2 separate regions of the Homo sapiens genome follow, and region 1 is linked to region 2. Evidence: fine-mapped expression QTL. Tissue or cell type: sun-exposed skin. Region 2 holds a variant in brackets; the other region holds the start of a gene. All regions are shown on one strand. Distances are between the middles of the regions. Region 1 holds the start of EPHA8 (EPH receptor A8). Region 2 overlaps EPHA8 (EPH receptor A8).

Evidence for each region. PIP is the estimated chance that this variant, and not a neighbour inherited with it, causes the effect.
Region 1: EPHA8 starts here. The variant in region 2 is the best candidate, but not a certain one, in a credible set for the expression of EPHA8 in sun-exposed skin (GTEx, PIP 0.83).

What each region holds. Positions count from the first base shown.
Region 1 is chr1:22,562,283-22,564,782 of GRCh38, reverse strand. It overlaps EPHA8 (EPH receptor A8), which reads right to left and starts at 1,294. Exons shown (of 17, transcript NM_020526.5): 1 at 1,054-1,294. The coding sequence starts at 1,147. RefSeq lists an enhancer at 256-756.
Region 2 is chr1:22,586,425-22,588,924 of GRCh38, reverse strand. It overlaps EPHA8 (EPH receptor A8), which reads right to left. Exons shown (of 17, transcript NM_020526.5): 4 at 2,290-2,445; 5 at 1-54. Among named protein-coding and RNA genes, the nearest start is that of EPHA8, 24 kb to the right of the region's middle. The variant C/T (reference allele first, on the strand shown) is at 1,435.

The DNA.
Region 1 (2,500 bases), 24 kb after region 2:
CCTTGGGGCAGAGCTGTGGGAACAGAGGAGGGTCAGGGCAGGGGTTGGGGTGTGGGGAGTGGGACCCAGGGAAACCTCCTGAGCTGGATGGAGCTGGGGTCTCCAGGGAGCTAACGGGTGTGTGGGTGGCAGGCTTAGGTGCTCCCTCTCAGCTCTTCTTGTGCCCCCACCACCAGAAGTCATTTCCCAGACCTTTTTGGTCCCAACGACTCAGTGCACCTCCCCACCCCAATCCTTCCTCCCACACAGGGCCCCAGAGTGACCCTGCCATCCCAGCCTTCTCTGACAAGACTTTGCTCTCCGGGGCCTGCCTGCCTCAATCTCTCTGTGGCCTCCCCATCCCCCAGCCCTCTCCTCCCCAAGCCGCTCCCGCTGCCCACGAAGCTGCCTCTCCTCCAGCTGGAACTCCCCTGCCCTCCCTTCTTCTCCCCAGCCCGTCGCCAGACTGTGGCCCTCGGGCCCTGACCCCTCTCCCAGACTCTCATTCCGCACCCCTCCTTCCTGCCTCCCCTCAAAGCCAGTCCTGCTCTCCGGGGTCCCGTTTCTCAGCGCCTGGCTCCTATCTCTCAATGCTGTCCCCACCCCCTTTGCCTTCTGCCCTCTGAACCTCCTCCCCCATTCTCCTGTCCCTCCAACCCCAGTGCCTACCCCCCTGTCCTCTGTCCCCAACCCTGTTCCTTGCCCTACCTCACTGTACCCTCTCCTCCTTACCTCTTCTCTTGTCTTCTGTCCAGTCCTGTCCCCTTGTCCCCGGCGTCCGACCCTCAGTATTCTGTCCCCAGCTGCACATCCCTCAGTCCTGTCTCCTGTCCTTTCCCACTGTCCCCCAGTCCCCGGTACCTGTCCGTCTTCCTCAAGCTCGCGGGTTCCCATCTCCACCGCTCTGTCCCTTAATCCCGGGTCTCTTCCGCGGTGCCACCCCGCCCCCCGGGCCGAGGGATCCCGGCCGCCTTGGAGCTCAGGGTCCATGCAAAGGAAGTTGAGCCGCAGGCAGCGCGCGCCGCGCCCCGCGCCCCTCGGCCGCCCCTGCCCCGCCCCGCCGCCGCCGCTCACCTTCGCCGCGCGCCGCGGACACGCAGGTGGCCGCCGCCGCCGCGGCCGTGACGACCCAGAGCGCAGGGGGCAGGCGGCCCCGGGCGGGGGCCATGGCCGGGCCGGGCCGGGCGGGCGGGGGCGCCACGCACCCTCGGGCTTGGCCGCTGCGGCCCGCGCGTCGGGAGGGAGCGCGCTCCCTCGCTCTCCGCACACCCGGCCGGGCGCACACCCCGGCGCACACGCGGCTCCCAGCGCACACGCGGGCACCCGCGCCCGCCGCCGCCGCCGCCGCCCCGGGCGGGGGCCGGCCCGTCACGGCGCCGAGCCAATCAGCACCGAGGCGGGGGGGTGGGGGACACGGAGCCCGCACCGCGGCCACCCGGCCCGCGGCCACCGCCGCCGCACGTGCGCACGCCCACACTCCCCCGGCGGGCACCTTCGGGGGCGCGCCCCGCGCTGCGCACTTGGACTCAGGGCTCAGGGCCCCAGTGCGCGAAGCCACCATCGGGACGTCCCGGCGACACCAGGACCAGACCCACCCAGGGATTCCCTCTGTGGACACACGCGCGGGCCGCACATCCACCGCATGCTCGCTCCTGCCCGCATGACCCCAACACCGAGTGCTTCGCGTGGTGACACACTCCGATGGATACACACTAGTTCATGGGCAGAGGCTCAGAGATGGGCTCAGCGGCAAACTCAGAGGCACTTTTAGGTGAAAAACCAAAAAAACACCAAAACCAAAACTCTCTCCCTTTCCCCACCCCAACAACTTGGCATTTAGGGACCACGGGATTTTAAGGAGGCCTTAGATTGCAGTGGTCAGGAGGGCAGGCTCAGGGACCAGGAAGACAAGTGTCCTGCTGTGTGGCCTTAGGCAAGTTTCTTAAGCTCTCTGAGTCTAAAACTTCATGTCTGTAAAACAAGAATACCAGTATCGATATCCTAGGGTGGCGTGAAAGGGCCCAGGTGGAACTCCTGGCAGACGGCCGGGCACACAGCCAGGTGGCCGGTCATGGGAGCTGTTATCCAGTGAGGGGGACTATCATTCCCTGCTTTTCCCTCCCCTGACCTTCCCTGTCTCCAGTTCCATCCCCCAGGACTAGGGGTCTCATCCAGGGATGGCTTTGGGCTGTGAGGGGAGGACAGGGATATAGGGCTGCATCCTGGGGCCTGCTCTGCCACCCTCAAGTCCCTCACACACCTGGTGGGCCAAGCAGTCCGAGAAGCAGGCAAGAGACCTGCAGCCTCCTGAGAGGGTGGATGCCCACGGGAGCAAGTGCCTGATTGCTTCCCACTGCCGCCTGGCACAGACCATCGTCCAGTCCCCTCTTCCTTCGTTCCCAGCTCTCATGGTCACTGGGGGGTGAGGAGAATTGGAGCCATGGCTGGAAGTTACATAGGATGAGAAAGGCCATTTGGGGAACATGTGCCCTGAGTCAGACCCTGCTCTAGGGGCTTTATA
Region 2 (2,500 bases):
TCACTGATGTCCCATTCACACTGGAGATCAGGTTCACTGGTGCCGAGGGTGGCCCTGAGGGCAGAGGATGACAGATGGGGCAGTGGTTATTTATTTGGGCTGTCCTGTCTTCCTATCATCAGACCTGGGGCTCCCCAAGGGAAGGGCTCCCCATCATATTTAGGGCTCCTTAAGGATAAGGTCCACATCTACTCCATCCTCTGTAGCCTCCCCAAGGGCAGAGTTTGTGTCTCTGCCATCAGACCGGGACCACAATGTCAGAGTCTGGGCACAGAACCCTGGGACCCCATCCCCCCCACCCATCAGGACCACCATGATCCAAGGGTCTGGACATCCCACTGCTCACCCAGAGTGGGAGAGAGACCGCACAGTCCCGGGGGTGCCCACAGCAGCCACCCTGTGTGTAAGTGACCCAGGTATTTGCAGCCACATCTATTCCTTGACCCTTCTGTGCCGGATCCGATACAAAATGCCACTGAGCACGCACTGTGGAATTAAGTGGAGGCCCCCAGAAGCCCACCGTGTATCCCCATGGCTGTGTGCACCAAGCAGCCGCTCCCCAACCCCGGGCATGGGAGCCTCTGTCTGGGCAGCACAAAGACTTTGGAGAGAGAGGGGTGACCCCTTGGTTGAGGAGACCAGGACGTGGGGCTGGGGGTCTGAGGGGCTGGGGTGGGGGTTTGAGCCAAGAGGGCATGGGGGTCTGTGGGGACCCCTGGCCTCAGAATTCCAGTTCTCAGAATTCCAGGCAGAGAATCTTAAATCTTCAGAAAATAGAATTGTAAGATCTTGGAATCAGAATCTTACAATTTGAAGAGAAGAGAATTTTTAACATCGGAAGGGTATAGAATACTAAAAGCTCAGCCTTTACGATCTTAAGCTTTCCAGAACCTAAAGGCACTGAACTGTGGGTTTGGAAAGAAACCAGAGTCCAGCCAGCTTCACGCAAGTGTCCATGACCTGGGGCCAGACTCGACTTGCCTGAGGTGCCCACGCTGTCACCTGGCCACCTTTTCTGCCCCAACAGGTCCCACATGTGGAAAATGCACAGATCTGGGCAGGGCAGTGGAGGGAGGGTGGGTGTGTGTGTCTGTGTGTATGTGCACAAGCATGTGGGCATGAATGCACCTGGGCCCTCGCCTGCCATGTGCAGGGAGGCTGGGGCTGGGTGGTGATGGATGTATGGGAGCGGGAGATGGGGGCTGATGCTTGGGCAGATTCAGAGCAAAATCAGAACAGTCTGAAGTGCCTCTTGCCCTACCACAAGAGCCCAGGGTTGGCAACTGGGCTGGGCTGAGCAGGCTGTGGTCCCTCCCCAGGCCTGGAATGGGAGTATGAGTGGCCCGTTAGGACACATGAGAGGAGAGAATCCAGGCGCTGCATCAGCAGAAGGTAGGACAGTCACGCAGCCCTGCAGGCATGGGTGCAGAATCC[C/T]CCCATACCTTCAGGTCCACAGGGCACGTGCACATGCAGCCACACCCTCTCCAGGCACATGCACCCTTGCAGGGCCAGGTGTGCACACGCACACACACACGTGCTGAGCTCACAAGACACCCTCATTCAAGCTTTACAAGGACTTCTGAGTCCCCTTCAGGTACCCAGATGTACACACACACACACCTCCTCCTAAGAATCCTTAATATATGTGACGAATCCTTTATATATGTGAGCTCAACTACACGTCACACATTTACATGCAGGCATCCAAACACGATACAGGCGTCGTCTGTAAGAGCAGCTGCTCACACAGACACACGCTAACACACAATCACTGCAGGGCCCCAGGGCATACACAGAATCAGATATTCGAACTCCATGGGTACACACACATATGCACACACACCATACACATGTAAGGCAGCTCTCAGCATTCAGCAGTTCCAACAAGTTCATCAAAGATGATGGTGATGGAAGGGTTGCTGCCCTAACCCTCACCCTCTCCGCACAGGCGAGCACCCTGGCTTGCCCACCTGGCCCCCAGGACATCGGCATCGCTGCTAGATCAGAAGATGACAAAAACTGCCCGATGTGGGGAAAGAAGTGAGGCCAGCTCCATTCTGCCCTCCAGTGTAGGTGACACAGGACAGAGGCTGGGAGCCCAGAGAGGTCTAGGCCACCGTGGAGGGATCAGAGTCACCCCCCCCACCTCAGACTGGCCTCTGGCTCAAGAGAGCCACCCGCCCCTGCCCCACCAGCAGAGAACTGGCTCTCTGAGGCCTGGAGGACCAAACACAGGGGCCCGGCCCAGTCTTGGGCTCAAGGGTACTGGCATCTCGGAGTGGTACTCACGGGTGCAGGCTGAGGACGGCGGGTCCAGGGCTGCACGGTAGTAGCTGAGGTCACAGTGGCAGGCTTGGGCGGCTGGAGCTGCGGAGTGGCTGTGGGGAGGGCAGCGGGCACACAGCTGGTCCCCAGGGGCTGACTTGTAGAAGCCCAGCTCACAGGCTGTGGAGGAGAAGGCGGCTGCACATGAGCCAGCAGGGCCACCCTGGCTGGCCTT